Linked DNA regions of Homo sapiens. The protein of the gene in region 2 purifies or fractionates together with the protein of the main gene of each other region. This does not show direct contact. Each region holds a gene or a part of one and is shown on either strand. Other genes may lie near its edges. The genes, in order: RNF139, KCNH2 and SMAD5.

Region 1 (3,654 bases), on a different chromosome or scaffold from region 2:
AAAAATAAAAACTTACTATACATGTTACATAACAAAGTGTTTCACTCTTTTATGTGTAAAGTCTATTCATACCCTTACCCTCTTTTGGAAACTTATGACTAAAAATCAGGGTACAAAACATAATATTTACAATTCTCCAAGTACCCGAAATACCTCTAAAACAAAAAGCAACCTGTGGAAAAACATTTCAATACCTGACAGAATAAATATGGAAAAGCACAGAAATAAATGTTACTACTACCTTACTCCCAAGGGAGCCTTCCGCAATGAAGTTTACAACAAAGTGTCTTGAAATGTTGTTAATCTGTTGGTATACTTGATAAATTATAAAGAAAACATTTCTATTGGATTCTCATTTTAGGTTGAAAAAAAACCTGGTATTCTAAGTATTAACACAAAATTAAACTTTTGCTTTTAAACTAAACTTATAATAAGTATGCTTTTATCAAAAATATATGAACATGGATTTTAAAAAGCCAAACCCTACAGAGAGGTGTTAAATGAAGAGTTAAAGCAAGTTTTTCTAGTTTGTCTTTCCCATCTGTGATATCATAAAAAAAATATTAATATTTGGTCTTTGTCCCATTTTCTGACATAGCTTCTAAAATCCTTGGAATCTCTGGAGTGATGACTGTTTTGTACAATAATCAGATGACTGGTGCCTGGGGGCCCCTAGATAGCTTCAGGATGGGGGCTAGGTAGCCAGGGGAATCAGCCCAGTGATTAAGGGTTATAACTTTGATTCCTACCCCCAGCCGCCACTTCTGGGAAGAAAGAAGCTGAAACTTGAGTCCATAAACCAATGACTAGTGATCTAATCAATCTTGCCTATTTAATGAACTTCCATAGAAGCCCAAAAGGACTGAGTTCTGTGAGCTCTCAGATAGCTGAACACTGAAGCTCCACGCCCCTTCTCCTCTTCTCTCCTTCTTTGTCTCACCTTGTACATCTCCTTCCATCGGGTTAATTCATCTGTGTCCTTTGTAATTGCCTTTATAATAAATGGGTAAATGTAAGTACAGTAGTTCCCCCTTACCCAAGATTTGACTTCCTTTTTTTTTTTTTTTTTTTTTTAGTGATGGAGTCTCGCTCTGTTGCCCAGGCTGGAGTGCAGTGGTGCGATCTTTTGATTAACATAGGTTTTTAACCTCAATATCATTCGGTTTATCAATCTTCATTATGTATTTGCTTTTATATATTTTTAAGGATTTCTTCCTTAATCTAAGATTGGAAAAATAAAATATTCCATATTTTTTTCTAAAAATTTAAAGTTCTGCATTTCATATTTACATATACATCTAGGTAAGAATACACTTAGAAATGACTATTTTTTTTTTTTAAGAGACAGGGTCTTGCTCTGTCACCCAGCCAGGCTGGAGTGCAGTTATGCAATCATAGCTCACTTGCAGCCTTGAACTCCTAGGCCCAAGCGATCTTCTCACCCCAGCCTCCTGAGTAAGATAGGACTACAGGCACCCACCACCAAGTATGGCTATTATTTTAAATATTTATTTTTGCAGAGACAGGGTCTCACTACACTGCTCAACCTAGAAGTGACTGTCTATATATTGACATAAGGTAGACATCTAGTATAATTTATTTCCAAAGGTGTAACAAAATGATCATTAATTCAACAGTCCATATTTACCTCAATGTACTTCAATTCTATCTCTGAAACACATTATTTCTATATATACATTGGTGTCTGTTTCTGGGCTATGTAATTATAAATAAGGCTAAGTACTAATCTATTTGTCTATCCCAATGGTTCTCAACCATGATTTGGCAATATCCAGGGACAGTTTTGGCTGTCACACTGGGGTGTGGGGGTGCAAGGTGCTACTGGCATCTAATGGGCAGGGGATAGTGATGCTGCTAAAAATCTTACAGTGCACAGGAGAGCTCCCATCCGCAAACAAAGAATTATCCTGTCCAAAATGTCAATACTGCCACTGTTGAGAAATCTCTGTCTATTCCTCTGCCAGTGATAATTACTTCGGCTTTGTTTTTTCACTTCAGAGGTTTTCTGAAGTCTTTTTCGGCACCAAAAATAGCTATCTCATTTCTTTCAAGAACTTTATTGCATGGCTAGACCTAATACAATGAACAGATTTGTATCAATACATATTTAGATTAAGTTTGTTGCTTTGTTATTTCCAGTAATGCTTGCCCATAGTCCTTAAGCAAACTATCTCTCTAGGCCAATTCCCTAGAATTGAAATTGTGAGTCAAAAGTTGTACGAGCCAGGCATCCCAGCTACTTGGGAGGCTGAGGCAGGAGAATCGCTTGAACCTGGGAGGTGGAGGTTGCAGTGTGCTGAGATCACGCCACTGCACTCCAGCCTTGGTGACAGAGTGAGACTGTCTCAAAAACAAAACAAAACACTGAGAAGTCAGTTGTAAATGACAGTTGATACTGCCAAATGGTTTTACACTGAAATTAAGAGTCTTCCGGGCCAGGCACGGTGGCTCACGCCTGTAATCCCAGCACTCTGGGAGGACGATGTGGGCAGATCACCTGAGGTCGGGAGTTGGAGAACAGCCTGACCAACATGGAGAAAACCTGTCTCTACTAAAAATAGAAAAAAATTTGCCGGGGGTGGTGGCGCTTGCCTGTAATCATCCTAGCTACTCGGGAGGCTGAGGCCGGAGAATCGCCCGAACCTGGGAGGTGGAAGTTGTGGTGAGCCGAGATCACGCCATTGCACTCCGGCCTGGGCAACAAGAGCAAACTCCGTCTCAAAAAAAAAAAAAAGTCTTCCAAAATTGTATAAATTTACCTATTTCAAAAAGGTAAATACCTTTGCAAAACTAATAAAACTTTGAACTCTTCACCAATCTGATAAATTTTTTTTGACTTTTTTTTTTTTTTTGAGACAGTCTCGCTCTATCGCCCAGGCTGGAGTGCAGTGGCGCGATCTTGGCTCACTGCAACCTCCACCTCCCCGATTCGAGAGATTCTCGTGCCTCAGCCTCCACAGTAGCTGGGACTATGGGCAGGAGTCACTGCACCCGGCTAATTTTTTGGTAGACACGGGTTGTGCCATTTGGCCAAGCTGGTGTCAAACTCCTGGCCTCAAGCAATCTGCCTGCCTCAGCCTCCCAAAGTGCTGGGATTATAGGCGTGAGCCACCGTAAGCGGTCTTGACAGTATTTAATTATAAACAAGGCTAGGTACTTTTTTTTTTCCCCCATAAAATCAAGCTACTGCAGGAAGGGCTAAATACTTTTTCTCTTGCTTATTGAACATCTGCATTTTGTTTATTGTGAATTGCTTGTCTTAGGCATTTTCCTAAGGGAGTATAAGTTTTTTCTTGTTTTGTTTTGTTTTTTTTTTTAGACAGAGTCTCACTCTATCCCCAGGCTGGAGTGCAGTGGAGCGATCTCGGCTCACTGCAACCTGCAACTCCCTGGTTCAAGCGATTCTCCTGCCTCAGCTTCCCTGGCAGGGTAAAACTCTTACTGGAACGTGAATCACTTATGATAGAAGTATTTTATCTCAGTTTGTCATTTAAGGATTCTTTTTTAAGCTTTGCCATAAAAAAGCTTTTTATTTTTATGTACTGAAATTTTTCAGATTTTTCCTTGGAACTTCTGGGTCTTCTGTTATGTTTAAAGCCTTTTCCCACCTCAATGAATTATCACCATATTAGT
Region 2 (3,015 bases):
GAGTGCAGGTGGGGTGGGGGGGCACGCCCTGGAGTCTGGTCCAGGTCCTGGCGGTGTTGTCTGGTAGAGGGAGAGGGCCTGTCTGTGTGTGCAGCAGCTGGATCCCCTTCTTCCATTCCTAGCCCAGCTGGGGGCTGCCACACCTCTAGCGCGGAGGGCCTGGGTTGACAGGCTGCCCCTCCCCCCTCCCCTTCCCCTTCCCCACTCCCGGTGGAGGCTGTCACTGGTGTCCCCACTTCTCTGAGCATCCCCCACTTCCTGCCCCAGGCTGGAGACCCGGCTGAGTGCAGACATGGCCACTGTCCTGCAGCTGCTACAGAGGCAGATGACGCTGGTCCCGCCCGCCTACAGTGCTGTGACCACCCCGGGGCCTGGCCCCACTTCCACATCCCCGCTGTTGCCCGTCAGCCCCCTCCCCACCCTCACCTTGGACTCGCTTTCTCAGGTAAGCTCCAGCCCTGCTTCCTCGATGTACCGTGACCCGCTTGTTCCCCGATTCCAGCCCAAACCTGCTTTGCTGCCTTTCTGCTGGGCTCTGTGGCCCAGCCTCCCTGAACCTTGTTCCTGCCCTCCTCCCACCCCTGTCCTCCTGGAGGAAGGCTGCTTCAGGAGCTGCAGGCTCAGGGTAGGGCAGGAGAGTCCCCCGTCCAAAGCCCCTAGACAGCTGGGTGCAGGGAACCTGTAGGCTAAGTGGCCCGCAGCTTCACTCCCCTAGTGTCCACAGCCTCCACCGCCAGGCCCCGGAGCATCGCCTGAAGAGCCAGCTCCAACGGTGGTGCCTGTCTCACGGCCACGGGTGGTCTCCAAGAACTGACTGAGCCCGAGACGTGGCGGTGGAGGCTGCATACCAGAGTATCTAGGGACAGGGTCCCGGGTCCCTTCTGTGAGTGACACTCCCTGGTCTCACCGTCCTGCCCATCCTTGCCCTTGGCAGTGGCTGTCACAGGGTCATCTTGAGGGTGCTTGGCATTTCCCAGGGTGCAGAGGCCAAGCCTCCAGGGGAGGACTTCCTGGGCCTGCTTTGCCCCCTCTGCTAGAGATGGGCCTTAGTTGCCCCTTGTCCTCTCCTGGGTGGACCTGCATGTTCCTGGCCTCTGCAGGATGGCGGTGTCTGTGTCAACCTCCGCGTCCATGGTGGGGACTCCTCTGGCTGCCAGAGGCGGCCTGGGATCTGCTCCCTCCCCACTTCCCTTGGCATCCGCTCCCCCCTCCCATATGCTGCCTGCTCCTGTTTGCAGACACGAGGGCCCACGTCAGCAAATGTGCCAGTCTCCCTTCGCAGCCGCCCCCGCAGAGCTCTCACCAGCAGACGCTCAGTACCCACAAACCCCTCCCGCCTGCCCCGGCCCTCTCCCTGGCCTTCAGATGCCTGGCCGCCAGCCTGCCTCTGTTTCTAGGTCCCCGAGTTCTTTCTGGATTGCGGGAAGGAATCTTGTCTCTTTTTCTGTCCCAGCTTCTGTCCCAACACAGAGACTGCTTGTTCCAGGTTGGGTTGGGCTCAGCGGCCACATTCCCTCGGGAAGAGACAGGGGCCTAGGGTTTTCCCTGCTCCCAGCTCTCTTGTTTGGCTCCTGCTCTCAGAGAATGCCTTTCTCTACTTCCCACCTTGGTGCCTCCCCTTGGTGGCCCCTGTCCTGCTCTCGCTGCCTTGGCTCTTGTCCCCTCCAGCTTCTCTGCCCACCTGACTCTCCTCTTGGCCCTCCTGTCCTCCCGTCCATCCTCTGTCCCCGGGTTCTCCTGCCCCTTTCCCTCCCCTTCCTCCTCCTCCATGGCCTCTTCGCCTGCCCATGCTCTGTGTGTATTGCAGGTTTCCCAGTTCATGGCGTGTGAGGAGCTGCCCCCGGGGGCCCCAGAGCTTCCCCAAGAAGGCCCCACACGACGCCTCTCCCTACCGGGCCAGCTGGGGGCCCTCACCTCCCAGCCCCTGCACAGACACGGCTCGGACCCGGGCAGTTAGTGGGGCTGCCCAGTGTGGACACGTGGCTCACCCAGGGATCAAGGCGCTGCTGGGCCGCTCCCCTTGGAGGCCCTGCTCAGGAGGCCCTGACCGTGGAAGGGGAGAGGAACTCGAAAGCACAGCTCCTCCCCCAGCCCTTGGGACCATCTTCTCCTGCAGTCCCCTGGGCCCCAGTGAGAGGGGCAGGGGCAGGGCCGGCAGTAGGTGGGGCCTGTGGTCCCCCCACTGCCCTGAGGGCATTAGCTGGTCTAACTGCCCGGAGGCACCCGGCCCTGGGCCTTAGGCACCTCAAGGACTTTTCTGCTATTTACTGCTCTTATTGTTAAGGATAATAATTAAGGATCATATGAATAATTAATGAAGATGCTGATGACTATGAATAATAAATAATTATCCTGAGGAGACTCCAGTGGTGCTGGGAGGGTGTAACTGTTACTTGCTGTGTCCTGTGTTCCTGTCTGGACATGCATAGGTGTGCCTGCACAGGAATCCGGGTCTGTCTGCATGCCCAGGCCCACAGGGCTGCCCCTGTATCCAGGTCTGGGTGTGTGCAGTGGGGGTGCTCCCTGGGGGCTGACACAGGTCATCTCCAGGGAGACAGAATCTTGTCTCTGTAGGGCCCTGGATTCAAGATAACAAAAAACCCCCTGAACCACATGCATTTAGAGGCAGTCCTGATGGGACACTGACCTGGTGTCTAGCCCCTGAGGGCCATGTGCCTCTGCTGGGTGGGGCACCCTGGCTCCCACAGCTTGGCTTCACACTGACTGTGGAAGCAGCCCTGCACTTGTCTCCCTCACCCAGTTCCTGAGCCTGCGTTGACCCTAACCTGAAATTGGTCTGAGTCCTGGCTCCCCCTGCCACCCACAACTTAGCCTTATCTTATCCAATACAATTGGGCCCCGGACACACTGGTGACTCCAGCCCTGACCAGAGCTCACCTGGTGTCTGGCTGCAGATGGACCTCACTTGTATCACCTTGGTCCCCTGTGATCCTGGATCTCAAGAGGAGCTTCCTGAAGAGGGTGCAACCTTCAGGGTGACTCATTCCCATGACC
Region 3 (3,654 bases), on a different chromosome or scaffold from region 2:
ATTTATTCAAAATTTACCGGGTGCCCACTAGTGTATGTCAGGAATACTCCATGCTAGGAACTCAGGCTTAAAAGACACTAACCATAATCTCTGTAAGATCTTAGAGAGTAATGGAAAAAAGAACAGGGGCTATAAAGAGTTTCATATGCCATTTAGCCTATCACTTAGTTTTATCCTATATTTATTTCCATATGATAGCCAACAGAAATAGGGCATTAAAATTGAGTTTAAAAAAATGTACACCAAGCACAGAGAGCCAATAATTGAACAGACAGGAAGGTATGCTCCTTCTTACACTAGAAACTGGAGGGACTTAACAGCTATGAACCCATTATCTGCTATTATCTTGGCCTTTCATAGTATACCTTTGGTTTATGAAGACTTGACTTGATAATACCCTTTTATTGATGTATTTTGTCATTTCTTAGAGAAATGACCTCAAAGCTAGAAAGAAAACCAAGGTAATCATAATATTTAGAAATTCCTGTGTACGTGAGGTTCCCTGATTCTTCTGAAAAACTGCAACCACTGACTGAACACAGAACGTCATTAGTGTACCAAAAGAGATGCAGTGGTACCTCAGCCATAAATGAAAACCTTATAAAATTACGGTATATCATGAATTACAAATGAATCTATCACATTACAAAACACACACACACCTCACCTCTCTTTCAGCTCAAGCATCCCTTCTTCGGGGAAGTCTTCCCAAACCGTCCTGGCTAGAAGTCCCCCTCTTATATGCTTACCGCATCACATACTCCTACTTTGTAGCACTTACCACACCTATGTTTTTACATTTACCTTTCAAATCTGTCCCCACAAGAATGTAAATTCCACGAGAAGAGCTGTATCTGTTTTCACTCATCACTGTAAGCCTAGTGATACATATGCTCAATAAATATTTGTTTAATGAAAGAAAGGGTTTGTGATATTAGCTCTGGTGGTGGGGTTAGGTGTACTTTTCACTTTCTGCTTCATCTAATTCTATATTTTTTAAAATAAACATATTTCTTGAAGAGTCAGAGGAAAAACAGGTTTCAAAATTAAAGTGCAGCTATACCTCAGCCATATTATGAACCCTTACTAAAGAGAGGATTTACATTATCATGAGTCATTCCTGCTTCAAAACAATTCTCTCTAATATACTTGGGGTTATACAAATTTGGAGGTTGAAACTAAGAAAAATCAAATCAGAAACTAGGTACAAATACTTCCATAACTATAGTACTCTAGGTTAATCAACAGAAATACAGAAATGATTATCATAAGGTACACCTACTTCTTTAAGTATATGTGCATTAACTGACTCAGCAGCTATAACAGCCATGAATCATTAAACACTTATTGAGCACCTACTAACTAGCAGACATTGTAGGACATGCAGGGGTTTATCAGCACTAGCCAAGGGTGAAGGAATAAATGAGAAGGCCTTTTTCTAAGTCCCATACAAAGGTACTATATGAGTGAAGAGTGGGAATAGCAAAAATGCAAACGGGACAGAATCTCCCTTCACAGAATAACGTAGCACGACAGACACCAAACTATACCCCTATATGTAAGTACAATGAGATAAACTCAAGTTACTAGAGGAACACAGAGAGACAGAGAAAGGGCATGTAATCCAGGTATCTAGCACTTTTCACAGTGTGTCCTGTTACTACAAATGAGCTGTTGCTCCTCAAAACAATGAAATCAAACTCCAGAAGCATTATTCCTGCTCCCAATAAATATTAGTAAGAACTCATTCTTCAAAAGCATTTATCTTCCTATACTGGAATGTCTTTTGAACCTCAGATATTACAAATGCCATTTTCTGCTTATACCACTTTTCTTAATCCCTGGCCACTAATTTTTAGCTCTATCGTTATTTAAGTCTCAGCTTTAGCTCTCATCCCAGATACCTTCCCTGATCACCCCATAATCCTATATAGAGTTTCCCTAATCTCTAATCCAATACTATGTTCATTTTCTTCACTGTATTAACTGATTCATAATAATTTGTTCATTTACTTTATTTCTGTCTCTCGCACTAGAATATAATCTTTAAAAAACAGTACCACATACATTACAATAACTTGTCAAATTCATTCAAGTCATTCATCCAAAAGAATATTTATTAAGATAGCATTTTAGGAGCTGGGAATATAGAAGTGAATAAAAGGAACCAAAACACTTGTCTTCATTTAGCTTATATTCCAGCAGAAGGAGGCCAACGAGATATAGTAAATGATATGTTTGTTAGGTGAAAAGTGCTATAGAGAAAAATTAAAACAGGGGAAGGTGGACAAGAAGTCCTGGAAGAGAGGTGTAATTTTAAACAGGGTGGCTGGGCTGGGTCTCACCAAGAAGGTGCCAACTGAGTTAAAATGTTAAGGAAATAAAAGAGTGAGCCAACAGGCATATATCTAGGGGAAAACCATTACAGGTAAAGGCAACAGGCAATGCAAAGATCCTAAGGTAGGAGCATGTCTGGCATGCTTCTGGCATGAAGAGCATATACTGGCTAGAAGACCAGTATAGCCTGAGAACACAGTGTACGAGGGGGAAAAGGTAAGGAGTGGGGTCAAAGAGATACCAGAGAGCCAGAATGGCCATGCTGGATATAAAGGCTTTAGCTTTTACAGTACTCTAAGGAAACTGTGAACTCAGTGGAGAGCTCTGAGCACAGACATGATAGTTCTCGACTTACACTATTAAAGAATTATCCTGGGCCGAGGTGGGCAAATTACCTGAGGTCAGGAGTTCAAGACCAGCCTGGCGAACATGGTGAAACCCCGTCTCTACGAAAAATACAAAAATTAGCTGGGTGTGGTGGCATGTGCCTGTAATTCCAGCTACTTGGGAGGCTGAGGAAGGAGAATTGCTTGAGCCCGGGAGGCAGAGGTTGCAGTGAGCCAAGATCATACCACTGCACTCTAGCCTGGCCAACAAAGCTAGACTTCATCTCAAAAAAAAAAAAAAAAAGAGTTATCCTGGGCCAGGCGTGGTGGCTCATGCCTGTAATCCCAGTACTTTGGAAGGCCAAGGCAGGAGAATCACTTGAGCTCAGCGGTTCAAGCCTAGCCTGGGCAACATAGTTTTTAAAACTCCATCTCTACAAAAAAAAATTGTTTTTAATTAAAAAATTAGCCAGGTGCAGTGGCACATGCCTGTGATCCCATCTACTTAGGAGGCTGAGGTGGGAGGATCACTTGAGCCCAAGAGGTCAAGGTAGCAGTGAGCCAAGATCATGCCACTGCACTCCAGCCTGGGTGACAGCACAAGACTCCGTCTCAAAATAAATAAATAAATCCTGGCTGGTATGTTGAGAATAAGCAGGAGGAGGGGTGGACAGCAATGATAAAAGCAGCGAGACCAGTTCAGAGATGCAGTAATCTAAGGGAGGGGAGAAGATGACGATGGCTTACAACCAGGGTGATAGCAGTGGGGTGGTGAGCAGCAGACATATGAAAGACAGTAAGCTTCCTGATGAAGGAGATCATGGGGTGTATGAGAACAAAGGAGTTAACAATGATTCCAAGGTATCAGCCTGGACAACTGGAAGAATGGGGTTTGACATCAACTGATTTGGCAAATGCAGATAAGAAAGCTAAAGGAAGATTCAGGGTTAAGTTTTATACACATTAACCATATGAATAAAATGTTGCTAAG

The links.
Region 1: the proteins of KCNH2 (region 2) and RNF139 purify together in Homo sapiens (affinity purification with western blotting, with the first as the bait; one study listed by BioGRID). This does not show direct contact.
Region 3: the proteins of KCNH2 (region 2) and SMAD5 purify together in Homo sapiens (affinity purification with mass spectrometry; one large-scale study listed by BioGRID and IntAct). This does not show direct contact.

What each region holds. Positions count from the first base shown.
Region 1 is NC_000008.11:124,477,825-124,481,478, reverse strand, and holds part of RNF139 (E3 ubiquitin-protein ligase RNF139), read right to left. Parts: intron 1-3,654. UniProt on the Homo sapiens protein: E3-ubiquitin ligase; acts as a negative regulator of cell proliferation through mechanisms involving G2/M arrest and cell death.
Region 2 is NC_000007.14:150,944,307-150,947,321, reverse strand, and holds the end of KCNH2 (voltage-gated inwardly rectifying potassium channel KCNH2), read left to right. Parts: intron 1-267; coding exon 268-445; intron 446-1,807; coding exon 1,808-1,957; 3' UTR 1,958-2,361; downstream 2,362-3,015.
Region 3 is NC_000005.10:136,139,337-136,142,990, reverse strand, and holds part of SMAD5 (mothers against decapentaplegic homolog 5), read right to left. Parts: intron 1-3,654. UniProt on the Homo sapiens protein: Transcriptional regulator that plays a role in various cellular processes including embryonic development, cell differentiation, angiogenesis and tissue homeostasis.